Homo sapiens: one gene and its partners. The protein of the gene in region 6 interacts with the protein of the main gene of each other region in a biochemical or structural test. Each region holds a gene or a part of one and is shown on either strand. Other genes may lie near its edges. The genes, in order: MAGI2, GRIP1, PDLIM1, ARHGEF11, TJP2, KCTD3 and IL16.

Region 1 (4,133 bases), on a different chromosome or scaffold from region 6:
CTACTAAAAATACAAAAAAATTAGCCGGGCGTGGTGGCAGGTGCCTGTAGTCCCAGCTACTCAGGAGGCTGAGGCAGGAAAATGGTGTGAACCCAGGAGGCGGAGCTTGCAGTGAGCCGAGATTGTGCCACTGCACTCCAGCCCAGGCGACAGAGCAAGGCCCTGTCTCAAAACAAAAACAAAAACACTTGACAAGAAAATTCTAAAATTATATGGAAGGGCAAAAGCCCAAGAACATCCCAACACCACTGAAGAATTAAGATGTGTGTCTGGGGGAGAGAAAGTTTCCCCATACAAAACTCAACACTCATTAAAAGGTAGCTAAGTATGGCATTGATGCAGGGATAGACAAATAGACTAGTAGAACAGTATAAAGAATCCATATACAGACCACTGCATTTATAGAAATTTAATTTATTATAGAGCTGTCATTGCAGATTGGTGGGGGGTGGGACAAAGAAATACTCATTAAATAATGATGCTGTGGACCGGGCGCGGTGGCTCACGCCTGGAATCCCAGCACTTTGGGAGGCCGAGGCGGGCGGATCACGAGGTCAGGAGATCGAGACCATCCCGGCTAAAACGGTGAAACCCCGTCTCTACTAAAAATACAAAAAATTAGCCGGGCGTAGTGGCGGGCGCCTGTAGTCCCAGCTACTTGGGAGGCTGAGGCAGGAGAATGGCGTGAACCCGGGAGGCGGAGCTTGCAGTGAGCCGAGATCCCGCCACTGCACTCCAGCCTGGGCGACAGAGCGAGACTCCGTCTCAAAAAAAAAAAAAAAAAAAAATAATGATGCTGTGACATGTGGTTATCCATATGGAAAAATTGAGATTGAGGTTCTACCTTATATCATACAGAGAAATCAACTGTAGGTGATTAAATACTTAGATATAAAAAGTAAAACTATACAACTTTTAGAAGAAGATATAAGAGAAGACGTTTAAGACCATGTCTTGGAGAATGATTTCTCAAACAAGACACAGAAAGCAGAAACTATAAAAAAAAAAAAAAGGGTTAAGCCAATTACGCTAAAATTAAGACTTTCTCATTATCAAAGAGCATCATAAAGAAAGTGAAACTGCAAGCCATAAGCTGGCATAAGATATCTGTATCACATTAATTGATGAAAAAGATCACCAATAATATATAAGCATTTCTATAATCAACATGAAGAAATATTCAACAGAAAATGAGGAAAGACATGTACAGGCATTTTTTAGTTAAGAGAGAACATGAACGTCTAATAAATATAAGAAAAAATGATGAATATGAATTTGTAATCAAGAAATGCAAATCCAAATCTAAAATATATAATTTTCTACCTACCAGAATGAGAGTTTAAAAGTCTGACGTACAAATCTTGTGAGTGTGTGTAGTAAGAAAAACTTTTTTACATATGCTAATACAAGTATAACTTTGTAAAACCACCTTGGACAATACTTTTGTGTTACTTAGGTAAGTTAAATTTGTGCCCTCCAAGGCATCTAGTCTAGTCTAGAGAAAGTCTTGCATAGGTACAGCAGGAAAGATGTACAAAGATTGTATGAGTTACAACAAACTTGGAAACAACCAAAGTGTAAATTGACAGGGAAAATCTCAAATGTCCATAAAATGGAAAAATAGATAATTATTATAGGTTGTAGCATATTCACATAATGAAATAACTTATAGCAGTGAAAAATAAATGGACTATAGCTTCATGCACCAACCTTGGATGAATCTCATGAACATAACATATAGAAAGCAAACCACAGAGAAGAACATGTACAGTATGGTTCAGTTACATAAAGTTCACAAAGTGCACCAAGCTAAAGGTTATAGTTGAGAGATACACACATCTGTGGTAACAACAGAAGAAATGTCAAGTGCTTTATTTAGGAAGGTGGTTCCCTCTGAGGGCTGGAGAGTAGGAGGAGAATGAAATCATGGGAGCTTGGTAATGTTCTGTTTTTTAAGTGGGGCTATGGGTTCATGGGTCCTTGAATCATGGTTAGTATTTACACTTATTACATATGTTAGAAATATTCTTGTAAATCGTTTTATGTTTAATAAAAACAATATATAAACCAAGATGCTTTTGTATTGACTAGTTATATCTGGTCTATAGAAGGAAAGGTGACAAATTTAGAAGAAGCTAATTTCAGGGAATGTTGCTTTTCCTTTAAAAAAAAGATGGGCAAATGATATTTTTTTGTGCATTGATTGGTTGAACAAAATGTTTTAGTCATTCCAAAGCCCATTGCAGGCAGACTTTTGCATCATGTGAGTTTCAGAAAGTAGGTAAACCATCTTATAAATAAGCTTATGTGATGCTAAATAGGCATACACAAATGGTACCCAGCTGCAAGTGATGAAGTTATGAAATAATGTTCTTTTTCATCATAAAAATACATTTTATGGAAATGCGAACTATATTACACTTTTATGGAAACAGGAAAATATTTTACCATTTTAAGAGCAAACGATCTCCTTTCAGATTTCTCTTTTAACTTGACTCTCAGATTTTTATTTAAGCACTTAGAATTTCTATTCTTTCCCTCCAAATGTCTCCTGATTTCTTACATTCCCTGTTTTACTGAGCTTTGCCAATATTATTTTTTATGTTCATTATTTTTTGCCTGTGTTTTCTATTTAGTTTTGGCTTTTAATTAGGTTATATTCCTAGGAGCTTTGTATCAGAGATTTTATTCACTAGCTATGAAAATTTCATCCCTCCCAATTTTATTAGGCCATTTTACAAACGTAAGTCTTCTTTTTATAAACAGCTCCAGTAATATTTTCTAATAATTTATTATCCTTTTCCTTAAAATCTGAATGTCCATTGTGTTTCTCTTATGACACCAGCCTTCTTGACTGACTGAAGAAAAGCAAGCAGACGTGACAATGATATATCTCTTTTTATTATTCCCCTTATTTTCTGCATTCACAGATTGTGTTTTGTTTTATCTATTCAACTTTTAATACATCAGTATTAACTGATGTTGAAAAACCATCTAGTATAATAATTAAAGTCAAAACTTGCTACTCTCCACTGGTTTTTTGATAAAGTGAATATAGTAGCTCCCTCTCATACCTCTTGCATATATTCCAACATCTCCAGCGGATGCCTGAAATCACAGGCAGAACTAACCCTATATACACTGTTTTCCCTATATATATCTATGATAAAGTTTAATTTACAAATTAGACACAGCAAGGGATCAAAAACAATAAAAAAAGAACAATTATAACAAAATGCCAGCATCACTACTCTTGCACTTTGGGGCCATTACTAAGTAAAACAACGGTTACTTGAACACGGGCAGTGCGATACCATGATAGTCAATCTGATAATCGAGAGGGCTGCTGAGTAACCAGTGGGCAGGTAGCATCTACAGTGTGGATAAAGGGCTGTTTCACCTTCTGGGAAGGACAAAATTTCAGCACGATACTCACAACGCTGCACAATTTAAAATTTATAATTGTTTATTTCTGAAAAATTTTATGTAATATTTTTGGATTGCAGTTGACACAGGTATCTATAATAAAACCTCGGAAGGTAAAACCTCAGAGTTTCACCTGAAGAGCTTCCTAAAACATAGCCTGGTGACCCCACTCCTAGAGTTTCTGATTCAGCAGTTTTGGGTGGGGCTAGAGAATCTACATTTCTACCAAGTTTCCAGGTGATGCTGATGCCAGGAACCGTGCTGAGAACCATTGCTCTGGCTTAAATTCTGTAAGAAAGAGGAATCTTTTCCTGCAAGGGTATTTCTCTATTTAGGCTTCTTTGCCTTGGGAGTACTGTGTATATCCAGCAGCGAGTCATTTAGATCCCTTGTGAAAATACATGGCCACTGTTTGTAACCGACAGAGACCAGCCCTGTAGTCCACCGTGGGTCTCTATCTCTCACAGGGCTCTGGCCATTTTGCACATGGTCTTCCTACTGTGTTTCACCTGCACTGGAAAGATTAATTTTGTTTTACTTAACTGCTTGTGAGCTGGCCTTATAGCAGGTTAAGAAAGTGTCCTTCTGGCTTATAGGGAAGCTGTAGAGCCAGGAAACCATGTGGAGGCCCATCTTCAAATCAGGGCTAGACGGGGTAAGAGGAGGCTGGTGCTAGATCACGGGGAGGGCTGCCAGTCTCTGGTGTC
Region 2 (4,133 bases), on a different chromosome or scaffold from region 6:
ATCACAGGAATGTGTCCTTCTTAGTTAAGAGGTACCATTTCCCAGATTTGCATCTCCATCACTATCTAAACTCATTGGGTGACCTAACAATTGCCTTCTAGTCAGTGAGGACTCAGATGCCAATAAAAAAATGTCTCCAAATAAGGCAGCCTGAAACAGACTATCCTAAAGCCATTCACTTCATCTCTGGTATTATTTTGTCATCTTTGCGTCTCAAGTTACATTGTCAAAAAATAACATGGAATACTCACTCTGCAGAATGAGCTGAGTAGAACCAGGTGCCCCCCTTCTCCCAATGAATGGGACTACCCCCAACTCCCCTTCCATAGTCCAGTGTTTGTTTTCATCTTGACTGCAGTTTCAATGGACACTTCCCACTGGTTCTTGGGTCTCCAGGTCCTGGGCAACTGTCCTTCTCCCCAAAACCCATAAAGAGCAGATGCTCCAACCCAAAATGCTTGGCACCCATTGACAAGTTTGTGCTCATGCTTGCCTTATGCAGAGAGCAATAAGGGGTCAAGGTCTTTCCTATGGCATACACACCTCCACTGAATGGCCCACACAGAGTGTCCAGCAGTAACTAATGTTCAACTGTGCCAGGGACTACTAATCAAATGACTCATTCAGAATTTCATCCAGGATATTGTTGATGATGAGGGCTGCAAAGTACATGTAATCTATCCAATAGTACTCTGTTCATTTAGGTCAAAGCCAGCTCTGAAAGGTGACAAAATATCGTACTGTAGGAAAATTTAGACTTTTGACCTCTGCTGATTATTTGGTTACCCTCTATCTTGATGTTTCTCTCTGGAGCCCTTAGCAGATCATCACCAGCCTATTGGCCACAACTTCAGCATCAGCCCAGAAGAAACTTGTGAACCAGCAAACAGAGCTGTTTTAGGCTTGATATGGGAGCTTCTCAGCTGCTAATGTAAATTTGAGCCCAATGTTGAAGATTTTGTGCCCTAAAATGTTGACTTAAGCATTGCAGTGTGTGGTGGATGGTCTTTAGTTCTGAATGTGTGGAGTAAATACGTTGAGTAGAGCACTCAGAAAGTGGAGGTAATGGCTGCATTCAAAACTCCCAATCTATGGCCAGAAGTGAAGTAAGTGCTGGCGAGAGAGGACACATTGCTTCCCAAATGACTTGATAGACCTTTCATTTTATATTCATCATAATTCTTCACTGCAAACACAAATAATTGAATTGTTAACTCAAGCTTTGGTTTTCCTCCTTATTTTAGGATTTCATATCGTAAACGAACAGCTGCTCACTGCAAAAATGTGGCCATGTTAATGCTTCACTAGGATGTAGTCTGACTGTAAAAGCTGACTATTTTGCTAAAGTAGCCACTGAACCATTTCATTTTATCCTTAGTTGCAGAAATGAAACAGTTCCTTAACCATTCACAGCTCCCAGGCCCAAGGAATAAAACAAGAAGTGCCCAAGAACTTTAAGCATGTCAGAAGCAAATAAAACCTTTGAATTCTGAGACTTCTTATTTGCAACTCTGACACCATCACAATACCCATCACGTTGAAGGCGGCCCATGATATCTTTCTGGCCAGTGCTTTAGGCAGAGCACATTCACAAGTGTCTTCAACTATAATAATGTTGAATAGCCAAAATTAGTTTATGACAGTGTGGCAGGCTGGTCTATGCTGTTGAAACATAGCTTACAACAGCTGTTACTCCATTGAAAGAGGAGAGATGATCATTCAAACCTCCACTTTAATATCCGTAATTCACTGATAGGACTCACATTAGAAGACAGTCAGTGGAATGATATCTAAGAGATTCTAGATTTCTTGCTGTTGTCTTCAAGTTTACTTATCTAAGTTCCACTTAACCATATATATGTTATTTGTTCCAACCCTTCGCAAAATCCACTTTTCTATATCAAAAGTTAGCATGCATGTAAAGCTTAAAACGGAAACAGCGTGACCCAATGTCTGTCTTCTTTGTTACTGAGTGACTCTCTCCTCTCATATTATAATGCCTCCTCAGCCATATGTTTATTTCACAGATATTTACTGCATACTTACTAAATGCTAGGTAAGCACTGTCCTAGACATGGACACAGTTGAAAGGTCCTGCAGCCCCAGCTGGGCGGATCTCACACATTTAAAACATAAGTCATTAGGCAGTGTTCCTCTCCCCTGGCACTGACAATGATTATATCCCTGTATTTGAATGTAAGATCCTACTAAGGAAATGCTACTTCCCAAAATAATTATTTTCTGTGACATGATACTTTGACGAGGATGTTTTGAATTCTTTTATGTATGAATCTATGCATCTTACTCTTTTGCTTTTTCCAAAGAAATCAATTATGATTCCTTGGCATTTATTACAGATGAGCAAGAAAGTTCCGGAGCAATTATTTACACCGTGGAGCTTAAACGCTACGGGGGGCCCCTTGGCATCACAATTTCAGGAACTGAAGAGCCGTTTGATCCTATAATCATTTCAAGCCTCACTAAAGGGGGATTAGCTGAAAGGTAAAATTTGAAGTAACTGTTATAATTACCTGTGTCTGAGACGGGCTTCCTTCCTCACAACCACATAAAAACATGCTCCTCTCTCTGTGGTTATCTGTTGGCTTTTAAAAATCTGCACAAAGGATTGATCTTAGAGCCTGAGAACTCTCAGGCAGAGTTCCGACTTGACTCTGAGGGGCATCTTACAGGCAGTAAAAGACGTCTTGGGCTTAGCATTGATACTACTCTCTGAAATGTATAAGCTGACCACAATTGACTGAAGGCGGATTTGTATTGTGTCCATTTTGAGAGGAGGAAACTAAAGTTCAGGGAGGTTGAACAGCTTGTCCAATTTCATTCAGCAAACACTTGCTGAGCCTCTGTTACCTGACAGGTGCCACACTTAGCTGCTGTGTTTTCAGAAAAGGATGATACAGACATCATCTTCAAGGATTATGGGAAACAAAGTGTATAACCCATTTTAATAATGTCTTAAAAGCTGGAATGTCCATTTTTTCCTTTGGCAATGATGTACACACACACCCACTCCCCACCCTCCGCTAAACTGCATTTCTTTCTGAGATGTGTTGTTGGACATATAACAAACCCTATAAGCAAATCTGCCCTCCAGTAACCTAGCTCAGGAATACACAAATGCATTGTTCCTGCTAACAGTTGAAAACAGTGGCTAGCAAAATAGAGACACAGCATTGCAAAATGTTGGAGCTGCAGTGTACCTTAGAAATTAGCTCATACAGGCCAGGTGCGGTGGCTCACACCTGTAATCCCAGAACTTTGGGAGGCCGAGGTAGATGGATCACGAGGTCAGTTCAAGACCAGCCTGGCCAATGGGGAAACCTCATCTCTACTAAAAATAGAAAAATTAGCTGGGGATGGTGGTGCTTGCCTGTAATCCCAGCTACTTGGGAGGCTGAGGCTGGAGAATTGCTTGAACCCGGGATGCGGAGGTTGCAGTGAGCCAAGATCGTGCCACTGGACTCCAGCCTGGGTGACACAGTGAGGCTCTGTCTCAAAAAAAAAAAAAAAAAAAAAAAAAAATCTGTAGAAAGAAAGGATGCTCCATGCTATCCACTACATTTGTCATTCAACATTGTTCATTTTCTTGGGATTTTTAGGGTGCTTAACCAATGACTCAGCTTTCTTGGAATTAAAAAACACAGTTCATTTTAATAACTAATTAAAACAATTTTTAAAATTTTATTGGAAACTAAAAAGTAATCCACAACAGATGCAGTTATCTTATAACATTGCCCAGGAGAAAGCAAGAAGGGACTTCTGGAGATCCTTACCAAGTCTTTATTATGATGAATGTATAAGGTATGTCAGGGAATTTATATTCAGTACCATACAGGGATTATTTCTACCTCTCCTATTACTATTTGGCTTTTCAGAACTGGCGCAATCCACATAGGAGACCGAATCCTAGCCATCAATAGCAGCAGCTTGAAAGGGAAGCCTCTGAGTGAAGCCATCCATTTGTTACAGATGGCAGGAGAGACTGTCACCTTGAAAATTAAGAAACAGACAGATGGTGAGTAGTGAATTGAAAGCCACAATTAAGGATTTCCAGTGCATTTTCTTCCTTGAAAGAATGTGCTAGTGTCTGTGTGTAATTCTAGGGAAACAAATCT
Region 3 (4,133 bases), on a different chromosome or scaffold from region 6:
GTTCTGTGGTGCACTTTCCCATGTGTAATACACTGTCTCCTTGGTAAATGCCATAAATACTAAAAATGATTTTGTGAAGAACACAGCGGTCTTGTAGGAGGCCAGATTCCTTACTGAACACTCAGGGACTAATTTTTATAGACACGACCATTCGTATCAAGTAAGACAATAAGAACATAGATAGGACCTAGTTTAGATAAAGATATTGAAAATGCATACAGAGGCTGGGCTTGGTGGCTTATGTCTGTAATCCCAGCACTTTGGGAGGCCAAGGTGGGTGAATCACCTGAGGTCAGGAGTTTGAGGCCAGCCTGGCCAACATGGTGAAACCCTGTCTCTACTAAAAATTCAAAAATTAGCCAGGCGTAGTGGCAGGCACCTGTAGTTCCAGCTACTCAAGAGGCTGAGGCAGGAGAATTGCTCTAACTTGGGAGGCGGAGGTTGCAGTGAGTTGAAATCACGCCACTGCACTCCAGCCTGGGCAACAAGAGCGAAACTCCATCTAGAAAAAAAAAATGCATACAGATAGATTAAATATGGTTGATGCAGCAAATAGTTTGCACCCATTTCTTTAAAAAAATAATAAAAAATACTTATGCTTCTGAAGCTGAGCATACCCATACCATATAACCCAACAGTTCTCCTAGTTAAATAGTCAATAGAAACTGGGTCCACATGAGTGCTAAAGGACAAGTTTGAGAATTTTCCAAGCAACACTATTCATAATAGCCCCAAATTTGAAACGATTCACATGTCTAACAGCAATAGAATAGATAAGTAGTGGGTGTAATTATATGGTATAAAACATCACAGCAACAAGAGTGAAGAAATTACAACTATGCACAGTGACATGAAGGAGACACACACACACACACACACACACACACACACACAGAGAAAAAGGCCATACCTAAGAGTGAAGAGTAAATACTGTGTGATTCCAGTTACATAAAATTAGACAGAATTAATCTACAGTGTTAGCAGTCAGGATCATGGCAGACCTTTGCCGGAAGGTCAGTGACGGAAGGCGGGCACAGGGAGGTTTAGCAGTTCAGGTAATGTCCTCTTCTTTATCCCATGCTGTTTCCTTGGGTGTGCTCTGTATGTGAGAATTCAATCAGCTGTATCGTTACCATTTGTGCTGTATACATGTCATCCTTCAGTAAAGGTTACATAGAAGCCCGCGTAATTGTTTAAAAGATCGGACAATATAAACCTACAGAAAGCATAAGGTAAAAGGCTTCCCCAGTCTTACTTTACAGAGGTAAACACAGTGAACAGCTGGCTGCAAACCTTTCCAGACTTTTTCCGCACACGTAGCATTTCTAAAACCAAATTACTATATCTCAGTGAACTATTGGGACTTCATTGCTTTGTGCTTTCTGCCTTATTTTTACTGTAACAAATCAAGAATTAAAGACATCTTAATGTCAAGGGAAAAATACATTTTTGATATCTGCTAGATCTAGTTCAAACCTTATCTTGTCCATTTACTAGCTTGTATGTTCTTGGACAGGTTAACCCCTGAAAATTCAGTGTCCTCATTTGCAATGTGGGAATAATAGCGCTTGTCTTCAAAGGTTGTGGTGAGGATTAAGATGATATATAGAGAGAGCCTAGTGGTACTATTAAACTATTAAATATTAAAAATATTAATGGTAGCTACTATATATTGAGTGTTTATTACGTGCCAGGCATTGTTCTGAACTCTTTACAAATGCAGTCTCATTTAAGCCTTCCAGCAACCTGATGAGGTTGATGCATTATAAATTTCATTTGATAAATGAAGATACTGAGTCAGAGAGAGTAATTCCCTCAAGGTTTAGTGAGTGTTTAGGCTTTGGGTTATGGGTGGTAGCTGTTGGAGCTATTTAAAAGCACGTAGGGTTCATAGGAGCTTGTTTGGAAACTTTTGAGGAACTCGACGACTTCTTGACGGAGTCTCGCTCTGTCGCCTGGGCTGGAGTGCAGTGGCATGATCTCGGCTCATTGCAACCTCCATCTCCTGGGTTCAAGTGATCCTCCCACCTCAGCCTCCCAAGTAGCTGAGATTACAAGCGTGCGCCATCACACCTGGCTAATTTTTTGTATTTTTAGTAGAGATGGGGTTTCACCATGTTGGTGAACAGGCTGGCCTTGAACTCCTGACTTCAAGTGATCCGCCCATCTCGGCCTCCCAAAGTGCTGGGATTACCGGCATGAGCCACCACGCCTGGCCTCGATGACTTCTTAAGAATTTAGTCAGAGTATTCTATTTGGCTACCTGTTTTATTATATTCCTGTCTGAGAAATGGTGGTCGGTCTTTCAGACTGAGAGAGCAGCACGTCTCTTTGAACTGTCACCCCTTAGCACTAATAACTTCTTTTTGCACCATGCATAGTGTGAAGCTGGATTAAGGTGCAACTTATCTACAAGCATCTACCCTATTTTATTGCCTCATTTCCCTGAGAAAATGGTTATAGACTAACCAAGAACATTTTAAAACAGTGTTATGTTTTCAGGTCACCCTGTGTAAATGCATACAGCTTCTGCAGCCATAATATGGCTGTGAAGTCTGTGCCACAGCCTCGGCTCACAAACATACTGAGTCAGAAGATTCTGACTAAAGAGAGTTCAAATTCCACATGTAAATGGCATCCTACAGAGCTGGGTCCTGCTTTATCCCCAGTTTAGAATCTGTTAAATTTGTACCCAAATACCTTGACACAACTGTTAAATCAGCGGAGATTATGCTTAAAGGCATGTAGCATTGCGATTGAACTTGAATCTCACATTTCTTTATCCCAGTTGTATATAATTATTACTATCGTTATTTAGGCTGTCTCTTTCACTTACTTGCAGGCTTGTCTTAGGCTTGTCTTTCACTTAGTTACACATTTACAATATTTAAAACACAAGAACACATATAAGATTTAACAAAAAATTGGAACATGGAAGAGGAAAGAGAGAGAAGTGCCAGGAACTTTAAATCAGTTGGTTCTGTAATTGCACACTACATTTAGCTGTGAGTTTTCTGGCCAAGGGAAAATAGGACCCACGTCGAGTTATTTAGATATCTTGTTTGGAGTTATTATACTTCTACTGGTTGGACGCAGTGGCTCATGCCTGTGAAACTAGCACTTTGGAAGGCCGAGGTGTGAGGATTGCTTGAGGCCAGGAGTTCAAGACCACCTTGGCCAACACAGTGAGACCCCATCTCTATTTAAAAAAAACAACAAAATTACTTATGCAATGCTTCATTTGCATAGCATTTTCAGGGGTGTTAACCAACATTACAGGGGCTGTATTTTTTTGTTTGTGTTTTGTTTGAGACAGCATCCTGCTCTATTGCCCAAGCTGGAGTGTAGTGGTGCTATCATAGCTAACTGCAGCCTCCACTTCCTCCCAGTTTAAGCGATCCTTCCACCTCAGTCTCCTTGAGTAGCTGGGACTACATGCCTGGCTAATTTTTAATTTCTTGTTCAGACAGGGTCCCACTGTGTTGCCCGGACTAGTTTCAAGATCCTGGGCTTAAGCAGTCTTCCTGCTGTGGCCTCCCAAAGTACTGGGATTATAGGCATGAGCCATCCCTGCCTGGCCTATTTTTTTTTTTTTAAGTCTGTTTTGGTAAGAGATAGAGGAATACTATTCTAATGGATATTCCTTTCAAGGGCTTTGTATGTATTTTATAGGAGTATAAGTTCTGCCCTTGAAGGTGTTTCTGGAGGAGCTGAGATTTTAGGGTCTAATTACTTTTTGTCTACCTGATGACTTTAACTTCATTCAGGGAGAGAGTTTAAGGGGAAAAGATAGTCATAGTCATCATCTCTCTTGGTGTTTCCAAACCTGATGAGCATTAACATTTTCTGGGAAGCTTTAAAAAGGTATGGGTTCTTGGGTTTCACTGTATAGGCTGTCTTTGGTGGATCTGAGATGGGTTGTGGAGCTCTATCTATATTTTGAATCCCTGCCCCCATGGGATCTGATGACCAACCTGTTTGAAAACCATTGCCTCATCCTTGCAAATATCACAGTTGGCTGAGTATTGGTGAGTGGGGTTGATTTCTGGCCTGAGGTTTAGAGCCAACTCCAAGGGGCAAGGTTAACAACGTTCCATAAAGAGTCAGGAAATTGACCTGTAGTCCTGTCCACA
Region 4 (3,500 bases), about 59 Mb from region 6:
GAAGAAACAGGGCGGGAGGAAGAGTCTGGAAGAGGAAGGAGAGCAGACTGAACAGACTTAAGAAAGGGTGAACTCGCTCACCTGACCAGAAATTCCCACCCAGCCTCTCTGGGTGACGGCATCAGCTGTGGAAGAAGACGAGCAGTCTGGCGGGATCCACGGGCCCTGCATCCTCCAGCCAGGGGTTACTGTTGGGGAGGGAGATACATGCTGCAACAATGAGAATGGAAAACATGGCGGGGCTGGGGAGCTCAAAGGGCTTAAGATGCAGTTACTGTGATGGGATTGGTAGAGGGGACAGCATTCTCATTGAGAGCTTGCGTGAGAAATAACCTGGGGTCTTGGGTTTCAGGAGAAATCTCGGGTTTCCTGGCTGGGTCCCTGTTGTTTCCTTCTGCTTAGAATGCTTTTCCTCCTAACGCCACACCTCCTTCACGTCTTCATTCCAGTGTCCTCTTGGCCCAATCTGTTTAATACTGTAGCCAGCACTGTCCAGCCCCTAGCCCCATGCCCTGTTGTTGTTTTCTTCTTTCCGGTGGAAGTTACTGCCTTCTAACAAACTACATAATTGACTGAAGTGTCTTATTTTTGTATGTCCCTCCCCTAGAATGTAAGCTCAACATAGGCAGGGATCTTTTTGTTTTGCTTACTGTTGTATGCCAAGAGCCTGGGACAGTGCTGGCCATGGGAAGTTCTCAGTAAACAACTGTAGAATAAGTCAGTGTTCCCAGCCCCTTGGCTCCAAAGCTGCCCATAGGCTCTCCCATACGTGCCCTCTCCCTTTCCCTGCCTTACAATCTTCTCTCATCCGAAACAGGCACTGGGTCCCAGCAGAGGGTCCAAGGGAAGCACCAGGTCCTGCTAGAGGACCCTGAGCAGGAGGGCAGTGCAGAGGAAGAGGAACTGGGTGTCCTGCCTTGCCCTTCCACATCCCTGGATGGAGAGAACAGGGGCATCAGGACAAGGAACCCCATCCACTTGGCCTTCCCAGGCCCTCTGTTCATGGAAGGGCTCGCTGACTCCGCTCTGGAAGATGGTGAGTGCTTCAAGGCCCTGCCGTCAGCCCCTGGTCCCCAGTCGCACACCCAGTGTGAACTGGCAGGCGCCTGCACCCTCCACCTTCCCGAAGGCTCTTCCTGGTGTGCTTGAGGAGAGATGGATGCGGAGACAGATGTCATTCCCCACCCAACCCCCACCAGCTAGTTGGCCAGAGCCCTCCAGCTTCACCTGTGCCTGAGGTCACCACCTTGGGGTCAGTGGGGCAGTACAACGATCCTTCTGGCGTGGTGTGCAGTCCCATGCTGGGAAGACATCACCCTGTTTCCCCTCCAGTGGAGAACCTGCGACATCTGATCCTGTGGAGCCTGCTGCCAGGTCACACCATGGAAACTCAGGCTGCCCAGGAGCCCGAGGACGACCTGACACCCACACCTTCTGTCATCAGCGTCACCTCTCACCCCTGGGACCCAGGCTCCCCAGGGCAAGCACCCCCTGGGGGTGAAGGGGACAACACCCAGCTTGCAGGGCTGGAGGGGGAACGGCCAGAGCAGGAAGACATGGGTCTCTGTTCTCTGGAACACCTACCCCCAAGGACCAGAAATTCTGGGATATGGGAGTCTCCAGAACTGGACAGGAATCTGGCTGAAGATGCTTCAAGCACAGAGGCAGCAGGAGGTTACAAAGTTGTGAGAAAAGGTAAAATAAATGGGAGTGTCCAGTGGGGAGACAAGCACCCTTGCTAGGTGAGATAAGTCTTCCGAACAGCTGCTTCCTTCCCTATACTCCCCCTGGGTACCGTGTGAGCAGAGACCTACGCTGGGTCCTGGAAGAAGGAGACAACGCCGATATCAGGCAGGCTTTGGAGTTGGACATTCGAGATTCAGAGCTTAGCTCTGCCACTTAATATCTGTGTGGCTTTAGACAAAATTCTGAATCATCTCTGAACTTTGTTTTATAGCACATAAGGACATTTCTTTCTGCCTGGCACAAACCAACTACCAGTACCAGTCTCTGTTAGTGCTCCTCACTGATCTCCTGTTCCCAGGGAAAAGAGCCACTCTTCTCAGGAGCCTCAGGCCGGGAAAGACAGGGCAGGTGCATGCAGCCCCTCACGCCAGGCAACAGCTCCAAGGGCAGTAGAGGTGGCAGCTGGGACTGGAAGGGGTGGAGGACAAAGCTGGGAAGACATTTGGCGAGTGAGGGATGTGGGGAGTGAACAAGGTGGCAGGGAGGGCACCCCGGGTTGGGAAACACCATGGACGGCCTTGAGACAAGAAAAGCCAAGACAAGCTCACAGGGAGGCCAATAGATGAGCCCAGGGAGGAAGGTCCCCACCCCGGGAAGAGTGGGCTGGTCTGAGAGGGTGGCAAGAAAAGTAGAACAAAGCCTGGGGCACACATGGGATGGGGTTCCACGCTAGTGGGCCTGCCCTCCCCTGGGATTCCACTCTGCCTCCCTTCCAGCAGCATTTTTCATTCCATCTGCCCAAGGGCCACCTGTCTCCTGGGTTTCTGGGAACTGACCTTCCTTCTCTGTCTCTCGGTGAATTGGTGGAAAGTTCTCTGCACTGCCTGGGATGTCATCGTGTATGATCTTGTGTTCACCTTGTTCTTCCCATTTTCTCCTCCCCCTGTCCCCACCTCCTGCCCTCTCTCCTTCCTGTTCTCTCTCCCTTCCCTTTCCTTGTGTTTTGGTCTCTCCTCTTCCTGGTGGTGGTGGTGTCGGTGCAGCTGAGGTGGCAGGCAGCAAGGTTGTCCCTGCACTACCAGAGAGTGGCCAGTCAGAGCCTGGGCCACCTGAAGTGGAAGGCGGAACAAAGGCTACGGGTAATAACTTTCTCCTTGGAGCTAAAGACAGGCCAAGACTGGAGTGTGGAACCTGTGAGGGCAGAGTCGGACCCCTGCCCATGGTCACACACACACCCACAAGCTCCCTCAGCTGCCTGGAATGGGGAGGAGGAAGATCTGGCTCTAAAGACGGGGAGATCTGGTTCTAAAGGCTGGCTGTCCATCCAGCCTTAAGAAGCCACCTGTCCAGGCTCCTGTTCAGAATGGCAGGGATAAATGCCTGTGTGCAATTGTGGGAGGGGCAGGGAAGCCTGGCCTGGGGGTGGGGACCTAGTGTCCTTCACCTGATATGCAAGCAGCCACTTCCCCACCTCAGCCGCCGCTCCAGTGTCACTGTGGAAATCGGCTGAAAGAGCCTCCCAGATTCCGCGGTGGTTCTCTGTGCTTCCTGCCTGTCAGGAACCCTCCACGTCCTTCCTCCAGCTCTCTCTGACACCCCTTGGTTGGGTCAAGGGACCTCCAGAGGATCGTGGCATGGATGGAAGAGGGGCAGGGCAGGGCTGTAGTTCATCCAGAGCTGGAGTCAGGCAGGGCAAGAGGGCTGCTGCCTGCTCCTTTCAGAAGAGCCTGAAACCAGCTCACAATCTGTTTACTCAAGGAGGGGGAGCCACTCCAATTTCCCCAAATGAAACACTGCAGCTCTGCCACTTCTCC
Region 5 (4,133 bases), on a different chromosome or scaffold from region 6:
TGTTTCTTTGATGCCTACTAAAGCTGAGCACACCTGAGACCCTGGGTGGAGCTCTACAATGGGAATAGGAGTAAGTAATGTAGGCTTCGAGAGACAATCATTCTGCTCTCAGTCCTTGGAAGACTGTTCCTAGGTATATATGGCAAAGCAGATGAAATTATTTGAGGGAATTAATTAGCAAAACTAAACATTTCTGTTTTTGAAAGGAATGAATCATTTGGAAGGAACTTCCTGGTGAGCTCAGTTTTAGCAGCCTGGTTTCTGCGTTACCCTTCTGCAGTCTGGCTGAATCAATTGTGTTCTTGCCTGTGATTGGTGAGGATGCACATGCTAGTATTTATTCTAGCCCTTATCACTTCCCATCAGCCCTGAGCCCCTCCCTGGTCTGAGTCATCTTGGTAACCCCAGAAGCTAACAGAGCACCAACACATCCACTAAACGTTGGACTGACTTGATTTGGGGCAGGCTTGTTGTATAAGCTAGTAGGAATAAGAGACTAATTGAGAAATTAGGACAGTGGATTCCTGACATTTATATAGTGAGTAGATGATCGTTTGTTAGAATTGCGAATTTCATCCAGAGAATTTTGTCCAAAAAAAATTATAGAATTTCATCTAGACCATTTTTGTAATGGCATGGAAGCAGCATTAGCTGCACCACTGATTAGCTGGGTGGCTTTTGCTGTCTTGTGACTCTAGTTTGCAATTTCTTTTTTTTTTTTTTTTTTTTTTTTTTGAGGTGGAGTCTAGCCCTATCGCTGAGGCTGGAGTGCAATGGCCCGATCTCAGCTCACTGCAACGTCTGCCTCCTAGGTTCAAGCGATTCTCCTGCCTCAGCCTCCCAAGTAGCTGGGATTACAGGCACACGCCACCACACCCTGCTAATTTTTTGTATCTTTGGTAGAGACGGGGCTTCACCATGTTGGCCAGGCTGGTCTCGAACTCCTGAGCTCGTGATCCGCCTGCCTTGGCCTCCCGAAGTGCTGGGATTATAGGCATGAGCCACCTCGCCTGGCCTAGTTCTCAGTTTCTTTATCAGAAAATGAGTAGTTACAGTTGATCATCTCAAAGTCTTTTGTGCTTAAGATTCTGAAGGTTTTGAAGTTTGAGTATAAAGCCTAGAGAACATTCTAAATTATTTCCATTGGTTCTTCTCATCTTAAAATGTTTTTGTGCTCCTTAAACTACGTTTGTGTTTGCTTGCTTGCTTTCTTTTTTTTTTAGAGATCCAGTGGATTATCTCTGAAAAGCATTTTTTAAAAAGACAGAGTCCAAGAGTGGCTGGTAGTTGTTTTGCTCATAAAGTGATGGAAAGATCTATTATTCAGTTGCAGCTTAAATTATGTACCAGCACCACGTGTGCTGGATTCTCTTCCTTACTTTGCAGCTTAAGCCAGCAACTGCAACCATCTTGCAGAGCTTCTTGAGAATCCTTCTTCCTCTTCCTCTTCCTCTCCACCCCCATGGACTTCTCCCCGGGCCTCATTGCCTGTGACATACGCTTGGAAGGAGGGGCAGGCCTGCAGCTGGGAGCCCTTTCTGATTTGTTCTTCACAAATGTGTTGAAGATGAGCCTACTGGTCACTGCTGCAAAAAACCACATTGTTCACTGGTGTAAAATCACTGCTGTCATCTGAGTTTCAGCATAACTTCAGGCATGTTGGAGTTTTTCAACGTCACCTCAGGCAGAGCACTTTGCCTTCCTTGGGCTGGTCTGTTTAGTGTCTGGGTGAGTTTTAAGAGAGGAGAGACATTGTGGCATCTTAGACACTCACTGAAATTTTCCAGAAATGGAGCTGGAAACATTTGTGCGTTTCCTTCTGGTGTTATTGTTAAAGCCTAAAAACAAGGGCAAGTGGCAACACATTGAAATGAAGAAGCCCCAAGTTTGCAACACATTGAAAGGAAGAGGCCCCAAGTTCGTTTTGAGCCTAAATTGAATTTTAATCAAAGGTCTGAGAGAAATATTTAGTCTACTTATACTATTTAAGTGCACAGTTTGGCAGATGACTTTGGGCAGTGAAGGATCTGGAAGAGGCAGGAAAGGTAGACTCAATCTGCCAGACTTAGAGCTAAAAAAATTTGCCTGGTATGTTTCCATGAAGAAAATTTTCCTGTAGAAGCAGTGGCACGACCTCTGTTACAAGTCTGCTTATTGATAATGAAGCTTTTTCTGTGTTATCAATTTCGTTGAATTTATATGTATGTATATACATATACACACACACAAATCTCAAGTAGAGAGCTTGATGAATTTCTTTTTTTTTTTTTTTTTGAGATGGAGTTTCACTCTTGTTGCCCAGGCTGAAGTGCAGTGGTGCCATCTCGGCTCACCACAACCTGTGCCCTCCAGGTTCAAGCAATTCTCCGGCCTCAGCCTCCCGAGTAGTTGGGACTACAGGTGCGCACCACCATGCCCGGCTAATTTTGTATTTTTTTTTTTTTTAGTAGAGACAAGGTTTCTTCATGTTGGTCAGGCTGATCTCGAACTCCTGATCTCGGGTGATCCACCTGCCTCAGCCTCCCAAAGTGCTGGAATTACAGGCGTGAGCCATTGTGCCTGGCCAGGGAATTTTATTTATTGTGGTAAAGTACACATAACATTAAGTGTACCATTTTAACCATTTTAAAGTATAAAATTCAATGGCATTTAATACACTCACAGTATTTTGTAAACACCATCACTCTCTAGTTCCAGAGGTAGGTGAATTTTTACATGAATGTATTCACCTGCATGATTACCACCTAGATTAAAAACTAGAATTTTCCATCACTCTGGAAGGTTCTCTCTTGCCACTTTTCCAATGATTACCACACCTACCTAAAAGAGAACTTCTCTTCTGACTTCTCTCACCGTGGAACACTTTTGCTTGAACTTGGGAGAGGACCCATATATAAATAAAATCAACATTTTATGTCTGTCATCTTTCACTCAACCTAACCTCTGTGAAATTCATCCGTATTTGTTGCGTGAGATTCAGTAGTTCTTTTTTGCCACTGAGTCGTATTCCATTTATATGCATCTGTCACATTTGGCTTATCTCTTCTGTTGATAGGTATTTGGGTTATTTTCAGTGTTTTTGCTATTATGAATAAAGCTGCCATGAAAAGCACCTACACATTGCCTTGTGGACATGTACACCCATTTCTCTTGTGTGAATTCCTAGGACCATAGGTTAGGGATTTTTTAAAAAACTTATTTTAGATTAAAAAAAATATTTTTTGAGACAGTCTCACTCTGTCACCCAGGCTGGAGTGCAGTGGCATGATCTCAGCTCATTGCGACCTGTGCCTCCCAGGTTCAAGTGATTCTCCTGCTTCAGCCTCCCAAGTAGCTGGGATTACAGGCATGCGCCACTACACCTAGCTAATTTTTGTATTTTTAGTAGAGACAGGTTTCTCTTCAACTCCTGAGTTCAAGCAGTCTGCCCACCTTGGCCTCCCAAAATGCTGGGATTATAAATGCGAGCCACCACGCCCAGCCAGGTTACAGATGTTTAACTTTGATTCTTTACCTCTGAAGTCAAATAAACCTGGGTGTGAATTCTTTTGTCCTGCCACTTGCTTGCTTGACTTTGAGCAATTTACCTTTTTCTCATGTTCAGTTTTCTCAGTTGTAAAATAGGCCTACCCTATCAGTCATGGTTCAGTCAAGAAGACATGTCATTCTAGCTATTTCAAGGAGAAGGGGATTCAATACAGAGTATTAGTTGCCTTCAGGACAAAGAAAAGGCGAGATGCGCAAAAAATGGAAGCCCACCGCTGGCTTTCTGATTTGCCGCAAAAAAAGTTAGAAAGCTGCTGCCACCCAGAGAAGACTCAGAAGGTCTTGCTTGACCTTCCACCTTCTCAGCATCTCCAGCCTTGAGGCTGGTGAAAGGGCAGGGAATCTGGACATGCTGTAAAGCTCATGTCTGAGGAATCCAACTTTTGCCTGCTACTGCTGCTGTCTGTAGGAAGAAGAAAAACAAATGGCTTCTGCTTTCCTTCATCCTTCCAAATCTCAAACACGTGTACCTCGCTGGTAGAACCCTGTTGGCAAGAGAGATGGGGGATCTCTGGTAGAAACAGAAACTCAGTGCCAGCAAAGAAGAAATGGCATAGATGCCACCTGGGGTTGCTTTGAGGTGCTCA
Region 6 (4,133 bases):
TAGATTTAGACTTTCTAAATTTATATATAGAAATACTAGATACAAATATTGAAACAATGTATATTGTTTATACTAAGTATTAAGTTAATTGACTAGTTTGTTTATACACACTTTCATACCACATACCAAAGTAAAGGCTCTGGGATCTGGGATTTTAGCAAAAGTAGGAGGCATGATTTCATGGGACAGTAGAAATTGAGCCTCCTACAAAAATCTGAAGTTTTAAGTTTCTCAGTCCCTGAGAAGACTGGGAAAAGTTTGCCCAGTAATCTTGGAACAAGAAAGTTTGATGTGTGTTTGGTGTCTTGGAATGGGAAAAGGAGATGCAAGAGGAAACCATTAGAAATTGAAACCAACATATTCAAATTAGGAGTGAATTGAAGCACAAAGACTTGCCTTTGTTCTATGAGAACTCCAATTTGAGAAACTGATCTAGGACTATTGACATTTCTAGATACAGATATGACACCAGTTAGAACACTTTCTCAGAAGAGAGCACACAAGAATCCTGTAGAAAGAGTAATTTCTGCTAAAATAACCTCCCAAAACTTATAAACTTCACATGGAAACAAATAACGAAAAGTCATTAAACAAGAAAAAATTTGCAATCCCCAAATTGGAAATAATGGAACAATTAGAAAGCTGCTGTATTGAAGGAATAGGACAAATCAGAAAATGGAGGGAAATAAAATACTGAAAATTAAAAGGTCATTGAAAAAAAATTTTTAATTTTATTTAATGGTTAAATAGAAGCGCAGCTAAAAGAAAATTAGTAAATTGACAGACACGTCTGAGAAAATCATTTCCAGTTGAGCCAAGAGTGAGATAGAAAATATGAAAAAGAAGGAAAAAGTGAGAAAGCATTTCAGATAGGAACAGACTAGAGGAGCCATATTGAAAAAGATAACAACTGCTAACATTTTGGAGAAATGAAAATGGGCATGAATTTATTGATTAAAGAAATGTACCAAGTCTTGGCAGCCTGAATGTTTAAATGTGCTATAATAAAAGATAAATTATGATAAAAAGTATTCATAGAATAGTGACAGTTTGCCTGTCATTAGACTTTGATCAGATTTCTCATCACCAGTAGTAGACACCAGAAGACGACAACGGGCATTCTCCAAATGGTAGAGAAAGTAACTTTCAGCCTAGGTTTTCATACACAGCAAAACTATCATTCAAACCTGAATGAGAAGGGTTTTTTTTCAGAGAGAATTTTTGAAAGGACTACTAAAGAAAAATGCCTTTTGAGAAGAACGTTATATTTGAAGGGGAAGAAATGGAATGCATTAAGCAGTGATTAGGAAAGATGTTGGTAAATACGATGGTAAATTTAGATAAGTGATTATTTAAAAAGTAATGGACGAAGGTTAAAACATCCTGTAAAAAATAATGATAAGTTTACAGGTATAGAGATTGTAGTTAAAAGATTCTAGGGGCCTTATATGGGAAGATAGACTGGTATTTTAAAACTGTAAATTTAAATTTACATGTAGAAATTAGTGGTAATCACTGTGTGCTACCTTATAAGAGAAAAATCCACTTCCATTTTATATTTGTGACCACATGACTGAACCATGCATACTAATCAGTATGGTTTCTTGGATTCTTGCCATGAAGTTGTTAGGACGAAGAAGAGGAGGCCACACAGTGGCTGCTTCCTTGCTTGTGCTGGGAGAGAAGAACTCAGCAGTTGTAACTCACTGTAACTCTGCTTATCCTCTGCTTTCTCTGTTTTCCCGTATGGAGGGGTAGACATGGAAAGAAAGGCAGATCATGATTAAAGGTTACAGAAGGAGAAGTAGCAAGGCTTTAATCCTAGAGCCCATCCTCCCAGAGAATAAATGGTAAAAATGTTTGCCTTTGTGCCTTGGGAAGCGCTAGGCTCCTGCTGCTCTTTCATTGAAAAAAAAAAAAAAAAAAGAATGTATCCAAAGGGAGAAGAATCTCATGGCCTTATCTGTCCCCATTTTCCTGCCATGAAGAATCTGGGGCAGGAGTTGAAGCCCTTTCCTTTAGTGCTAGAACTAAAATGATTTAGCTAACTTGAGTAAGAAAATTGGTTAGTGGTGTGTAAAGCAGTCTCCCCTCCATCCTTTAGACATCTTTACTGATATCACTGAAAAGTACTCAATGTTTTCCTGGTATAAAATGTTTTGGCATTGGCTTTAATTAAAAGCCTGACCTCAGGATAGGGCATGATGATTGAGTTCTTTGAGATATTTCTTGTGTAACTCATAACTGCATGACATTGAGAGGGTACAGAAATTAGGATTATATACAGGAAGAGCTTAGAGGAATGATTATTTCCAAGTTTTAGTTATTTCTGTTTTTAATTAGAATGAACCTAGATTCTGTGCTTTTTTTACTTGCTCTTCAGATATTCCCTTTCCCCTTGCCCTACCTAACTCATAGTTGACTTCAGTCTTCAAGCTTCACTTCCTCTGTGAACCTTCCTTGATCTTTGCTCTTCACCCACCAGCACTGAGATGGCAGTTCTTCCCCTCTCTCCTGTGATTGTATTGTAGTCTATTTTAGTGCCTGTCACACTATAATTGTCTGTTATTTTTCTTTCTCACAAGTTACCAGCTCCTAGAGAGCAAGGGGATACCTCACATCCCTTATCTCTAGTTCATTGTTTGTTTTCTTGGATAATATGTGGTACATAAAAAGTACTTAAATGTTAAGCAGATAATGTTTAGATTTTAACTTTTCAAATGAAAGCCAGGTATAGTATATGAAAAGTAAAAGTCCCTTAACATTTTTAACTTTTAAATTATTGGAAATCTTTTAGACTTGTATGCAAAACTTGGTGTCTTAGTAATTCAAATGTCATCTGTGAAGAAGCTTAACAGGCTTGTCTGGCCTGGCTGTAAACAGGGAAGATTCATTTTGATGAATAGTAGAATATCACTCTAGTAAAATAGTATTGCAACTATCCTAGCAAACACATTTTTTTTTTTTTTTGGATACCAAGTCTCACTCTGTTGCCCAGGCTGGAGTGCAGTGGCACAATCCCCGCTCACCGCAACCTCTGCCTCCCAGGTTCGAGCAATTCTCCTGCCTCAGCCTCCCGAGCAGCCGGGATTACTGGCATGCGCCACTACGCCCAGCTAATTTTGTATATTTAGTAGAGACAGGGTTTCACCGTGTTAGCTAGGCTGATTTCGAATTCCTGACCTCTGGTGATCTGCCTGCCTCGGCAGGTTTCTTTTAGCACAAATATGGGAAGGTATTAATTTGTAAACTAGATTGATTTTCCTGGAAAAACTAATTTTTTTATTCCTATACTTTAAAAAAATAAATACAAATGAGACTTTGTTTCCCTTGCCATTTCCTAGAAAAGAAGTAACCTTTAGCAAGGAGAATGAAAAATAGAGAATACCACCTTTTCAGAGAAATAATAAATTATCAAGGGAGCAAGTACTTTCTGGAAATCAGTTGCTTTGTTTACTAGTTCTGATTCTGTCACTTGCTTACTGTGTAACTTTGGACAGGTCATTTAATCTCTTGTATGAGAAAGGGAAAAGAGAGGGACCTGGTCAGACTCGGCCTTCCAGTTCTAGTGGGCTGCAATCTAGTGATCACATGCAAAAAAAGAGGAGACAACCAATCGAAATTGAGAAAGGAAAGTACTGCTGTGGGAAATACAATTTAAAAAAAATATTTTGAAGGAAGTATATTGATGGTTCTCCTCTGTAGCATGTTTGTGTATATGTGTGTGCACGCGTGCACCTAAAGAAAGTTTATTTCCTAAGCCCTACTAAAATTGGATATTGGTTGCCTCTTTACCAGAAGAATCAAAGTTTTGAGGAAATTGACCAGAAAATAGAAATTATAATTACTATCTAACATCTGATAATACTCTCACTACATCAGGTTCAAGATGTTGTTCCTATAACTAGTTATGACACTGCTGGATCATTCCTTCTGCTTGGATGTAACAATGGATCAATATATTACATAGGTAAGTGTTCAGTCACTTAAAATGCTCCTGCTTAATGTAATTTTTTAAATGAGAACAAGAAAACATTACCTTTCAGTTTTAAATAGATATGCTATTTATTTTAATGCTGTTTAAAATTTTTATGTTTTAGATATGCAGAAGTTCCCCTTGCGAATGAAAGATA
Region 7 (4,133 bases), on a different chromosome or scaffold from region 6:
GAACTGAGAAACTCGCTCAAGTTCACATTGCTAGTGGGTCACAGTTACCCACTATGCAATGCTGAGTTTCCCATCCTTACCCAGAAGCTGTCTCCCCCATCACGGAATGGCCCTGCAGGGGCCCTGGCCCTTCCCTTAAGCACACCGTGGGCAGGTGGGAGGGGGCCTCTGGAAATCCCCTAAAACAATCTACAGTGAGGGTTGGCAAGCTTCAGGAGGGGTAGCGGTGGAGACGGGATGTTGAGTAGGAGGGGTGAAAGTGAAGGAGGGAGGAGGAAGCCAGGTTACTAAAAAGGAAGTGCAGTTTTGCAGAGCGCTGGCAGGATGTGGCTGGTTAGCAACACATGATGGAGTTATCAGATGGATCTGTTCTCCCACCCCCTCTTTTAAGCCCATATTTCATTTTCCCTTGGGCCTGAGACCTATGAGTCCAGAAGGGCAAATCAGGAGCAGCCAGCTGAGAAGCCAGTCATTTTGCCTTCCTCCTGGAGGCCCAGAAAAGGAGTGCAGTTGCCACAGCAGGTCTGTCCCAGTGATGCCCTTGGCAGAGCCACATAGGGTCAGGGAATATTCCCGAGTAAGGCGTCTGGAGAAGGAACTGGGGTGTCCTCAGGGAAGCCCAGGCAAGGAACTTCCCACAGGTCATCTTTCATGCCCTGTGTGCCTCAGCAGAATACAGGGCTCCCTCCTGTACCTGCCCCCAACAGCACCGTCTCCTGGAGACAAGGCCGTTCTGCAGCTGCCCTCCTCTGTTTGCTCTGGTCTGTCCCACGTGGCCAGCAGATCCTTCTCCCACAAACATTTCCATAAAAGCAATCAGCACGACATAATTTTATTGGGCACTGGAGAGGCGGGGGTCACAGAGAAAGGATCATAGCACGCAATAGAAAACAGGAAGCAATTTGCTTGAGGTCACTCTCAAAATTTCCTTGACCATTCCTGGGGATTTCTCACTGGATGTTTTCTTCCGTGGCCACAGTGTCCACTGTCTCACTCTCCCACTTTTCCCTCCCTGCAGTCTTTTCTCTACAGGGTCCCAAGACTGTTGTCAAGCTGCTATGGATGACCCCCAAGTCTTTCCCATCTACTCTAATTCAAGGGGACTTAACTCTCACAACCAATATGAACTTTGGGATATTTTCTTCAACAAAAAACTAACATCCCTCTTATAAAAAATCAGCCTAAACTCTCCCCCGTGCTTTAAAAAACTTGCTTAAAAAAACACAACAGGATTTTCGAAGAATCCTTTCTTAGAAAACAAACAAAAAAACCAAACAAAAACGTACTTTCTCCCCACTATGCTGAATCTGCTCTCTCCCTCTTTCCTTCTTTCTCTTCTCCCTCCCTCATCCACCAAGCATGGTTCCAGGAAACACTAGTAAGAGAAAAATTTGTGTAAAATCAAATTTATTTCAGGGGCTAATTCTGAAGTCTCCCATGAAGAGGATGCAATATTGGATGTGTTGATGAAAAGACAAAACACATTTGTGCTGTTCTAAGTTGTAAAGCTGCATTGACTGCAGTTGGTATCACATGTGGCTGCCTGTAAAAGAGCTAACAATTCATGAATGTCAACAGATGTCAACTTACAGAGCTCCCAACCAGGTGAAATTAAATTTCATCCCCATGTAATTTCTCTTGTGGACAAGAGACTTAGAGATCATCAGGCCAATATTTGGAGCTTCTAATGCCATGACTCAGCCTTACTTTTTTTAAGGGCTAGTTCGAGAAGCTCAATGATTCCTTTGAAATTGGTTGATCTCTCAGTATTTCATAATGCTCTCCTAAAGCTCAGTTCTACAGTAGGGAACTCGAGCTGAGGCAATGCTCTGTGAATACACTTCTAACTTTTGTAGACCTTTGCTTCCTCCAAAATGTTTATTGTCAATGTAGATCTTAAATTTCAGGTCATGGATATTTGCCATTGCTTTTTTAGTCCCAAAGGATGCATTTGTTCCTTCCTCTTTCCTTCCTCTCTGGAAGGAAGCCTGCAGCCATGTCAAATGGCCCATCATTACACAAATCTGGAATGAACCGGACGTGGAGGCCACCGCAGTATAGCAAAGCATTTCTCTTGCAGACAATCAAATACAGGTGGCATCATTTTGATGATGTCTGCTTTCTCAATCTTTTTTTCCAGATGGGTATTATGTTTGGTTGGGCTATGTCTCTGGAACACTATTTTTCTGCCTCTCTGCCTGCAAAATTCTTACTCTGTTTATGAAGCAGACAGAAAGTACTTCTCTAGGAAGCCTTCTCCACCTCTGGGATGGAACTGGTCTCTCTGTTTCCTCTGGGCCCTGACAGTACCTTAAGCACACTGTGTGATAATCCAAACTCTTCAAGTATTGCATAGCTATTCAGAGCCTGGTTCATCTTGTCCCTAGGCTGTTTTGGGAGGACCCCAAGGCTGCATCCAGGCTCAGTGGTGGAAACAATTCTGCAACAGATTGAGGATGTCACCCTAGGTGCCACAGAGGGGAGCAATGGCACAGGTGCTGAGTATCTGTCATCTTTTGCAGAACACTTACTAAATATTTGAAGAGTGCTTAACAAGTGACAGCAATTGACAAGCATTTTCCTGAGTGCTCTAACCTTAGGGAACACTAGCTGCCAGGTTTTTTTGCTGCCTTGTTTCTACGCTGCCCTATACCCTCCCGGGGTGGGTAGTTCACCAGATGCAGTTGTAACTGAAGCAATGCCAGTCCCTCCACACTCAAAGCCTTTTGTTCCTATCATAAAGAGTCAGGGTCTTCAAGTATGTCAACAGTATGAGCCCATGACCTGGATACCAGGTTGCTGGAAGTCAAGGGATGCTCTGCATGTCTAGGAGGTGCTGGCTCTGCCACGTCAGCACCAAGGAGAAAAGAATCCTCTTTACATGGCTGCTGATGAACTTCTCACTGAAAGCAGCTCAATATCCGTTTTTCCGTCCCAATCAAAGCGTGTCTCGCCTTCTCACAGCTTGAGGCTACCGTTTTGACATGGTCTCGCTTCCTGTTTACACCACAGGAAGCGAGAGAGCTGCTGCCACTGCTGCTACCACAGGAAGACACAGCAGGGAGAAGCCCTAGTGCCTCTGCCGGCTGCCCAGGACCTGGTATCGGCCCACAGACCAAGTCCTCCACAGAGGGCGAGCCAGGGTGGAGAAGAGCCAGCCCAGGTAAGCTTTCATTGAGATCTTCCAAAAGGAAGGGTCTTTTGAAAAAAGGTGCAGGGATAAGATAAGAGCACAAATTGGCCTGAGGATCAGAGTGCTCTGCATTGACATCACCACTGGACCTGGCTGATCAACAGTCAAGGGTTCCAGGTGCTGGGCAGCAGCACCGTGGAGGTGCTGTCCAGGGTGGGGAGCCTCCTGGGTGGACGGGTGATGCTGTGGGGGTGGCAGCAGGAATGCAGGCCATTCTGGATAATTGGGAGGATGGAGCCCTTGGAAGAGGTCCAAAGACACACCCACCCAGCCATCCTGGGCAGCTACCTCTAGGGTGCCAACATTCCAGTTGCAACAGTCCTGCTGCATTCAGGATTTCTGAGTCAGAGAATGCAACGCCAGAAAAGTATAAATAGCATCTACCAGTGGTCACCTCCTCCATGAGGTGGATAGCAAGGGTGTGTCCACATGGTACACCTGACAATGCTAAGACATGACTTGAATATTTATTTGCTTGCTAGAGAGAGCATAGGACTTGAAGTCAGGGAATCCTGGATCTGTCTGTCATTAGTATGATTCTGAGCAACCTACTTTGCCTTTCTGAGCCCAGATTCACTCATCAGCAATGTGTGGAAGAGCACGTAGACCCCAAGCATATGATGCATTCAGCAAGCACACATTGAATGCTGGCTTCGTGAGGCCCTGTGCTAGATGCTGGGGGGAGAGAGAGAAAGGGATGAGACCAGGTAGTCAGGTCCTGCCTCCAAGGAGCAACTAGTAGTGGCAGGAAATAAACATATAGACTATAAAACATATGACTGTTTGAGTAACACTACAGAAAAGCTCATGAAAGACTTTTGGAGGGCTAAGGGACATTTTGGAAAGATCTAGCACATCTCACCCAGAGCAGAGGCCCTGTGGGTGGAGGCTCCTCTCCCTTAGTCACCCTAATTGAGGAACATTCTAGCAAAAGCAAACG

Evidence for each region.
Region 1: the proteins of KCTD3 (region 6) and MAGI2 interact in a test that uses a peptide from one of them, tested with the Homo sapiens proteins (one large-scale study listed by IntAct).
Region 2: the proteins of KCTD3 (region 6) and GRIP1 interact in a test that uses a peptide from one of them, tested with the Homo sapiens proteins (one large-scale study listed by IntAct).
Region 3: the proteins of KCTD3 (region 6) and PDLIM1 interact in a test that uses a peptide from one of them, tested with the Homo sapiens proteins (one large-scale study listed by IntAct).
Region 4: the proteins of KCTD3 (region 6) and ARHGEF11 interact in a test that uses a peptide from one of them, tested with the Homo sapiens proteins (one large-scale study listed by IntAct).
Region 5: the proteins of KCTD3 (region 6) and TJP2 interact in a test that uses a peptide from one of them, tested with the Homo sapiens proteins (one large-scale study listed by IntAct).
Region 7: the proteins of KCTD3 (region 6) and IL16 interact in a test that uses a peptide from one of them, tested with the Homo sapiens proteins (one large-scale study listed by IntAct).

What each region holds. Positions count from the first base shown.
Region 1 is NC_000007.14:78,120,234-78,124,366, forward strand, and holds part of MAGI2 (membrane-associated guanylate kinase, WW and PDZ domain-containing protein 2), read right to left. Parts: intron 1-4,133. UniProt on the Homo sapiens protein: Seems to act as a scaffold molecule at synaptic junctions by assembling neurotransmitter receptors and cell adhesion proteins. Plays a role in nerve growth factor (NGF)-induced recruitment of RAPGEF2 to late endosomes and neurite outgrowth.
Region 2 is NC_000012.12:66,392,577-66,396,709, reverse strand, and holds part of GRIP1 (glutamate receptor-interacting protein 1), read left to right. Parts: intron 1-2,357; coding exon 2,358-2,502; intron 2,503-3,893; coding exon 3,894-4,033; intron 4,034-4,133. UniProt on the Homo sapiens protein: May play a role as a localized scaffold for the assembly of a multiprotein signaling complex and as mediator of the trafficking of its binding partners at specific subcellular location in neurons.
Region 3 is NC_000010.11:95,280,743-95,284,875, reverse strand, and holds part of PDLIM1 (PDZ and LIM domain protein 1), read left to right. Parts: intron 1-4,133. UniProt on the Homo sapiens protein: Cytoskeletal protein that may act as an adapter that brings other proteins (like kinases) to the cytoskeleton. Involved in assembly, disassembly and directioning of stress fibers in fibroblasts.
Region 4 is NC_000001.11:156,937,743-156,941,242, reverse strand, and holds part of ARHGEF11 (rho guanine nucleotide exchange factor 11), read left to right. Parts: intron 1-169; exon of another isoform or gene 170-185; coding exon of another isoform or gene 186-188; intron 189-817; coding exon 818-1,036; intron 1,037-1,332; coding exon 1,333-1,695; intron 1,696-2,729; coding exon 2,730-2,825; intron 2,826-3,500. UniProt on the Homo sapiens protein: May play a role in the regulation of RhoA GTPase by guanine nucleotide-binding alpha-12 (GNA12) and alpha-13 (GNA13). Acts as guanine nucleotide exchange factor (GEF) for RhoA GTPase and may act as GTPase-activating protein (GAP) for GNA12 and GNA13.
Region 5 is NC_000009.12:69,180,532-69,184,664, forward strand, and holds part of TJP2 (tight junction protein 2), read left to right. Parts: intron 1-4,133. UniProt on the Homo sapiens protein: Plays a role in tight junctions and adherens junctions. Acts as a positive regulator of RANKL-induced osteoclast differentiation, potentially via mediating downstream transcriptional activity.
Region 6 is NC_000001.11:215,597,985-215,602,117, forward strand, and holds part of KCTD3 (BTB/POZ domain-containing protein KCTD3), read left to right. Parts: intron 1-3,882; coding exon 3,883-3,970; intron 3,971-4,100; coding exon 4,101-4,133. UniProt on the Homo sapiens protein: Accessory subunit of potassium/sodium hyperpolarization-activated cyclic nucleotide-gated channel 3 (HCN3) up-regulating its cell-surface expression and current density without affecting its voltage dependence and kinetics.
Region 7 is NC_000015.10:81,293,916-81,298,048, forward strand, and holds part of IL16 (pro-interleukin-16), read left to right. Parts: intron 1-1,102; exon of another isoform or gene 1,103-1,416; coding exon of another isoform or gene 1,417-1,467; exon of another isoform or gene 1,468-1,533; coding exon of another isoform or gene 1,534-1,605; exon of another isoform or gene 1,606-3,012; coding exon 3,013-3,163; intron 3,164-4,133. UniProt on the Homo sapiens protein: Interleukin-16 stimulates a migratory response in CD4+ lymphocytes, monocytes, and eosinophils. Primes CD4+ T-cells for IL-2 and IL-15 responsiveness. Also induces T-lymphocyte expression of interleukin 2 receptor. Ligand for CD4.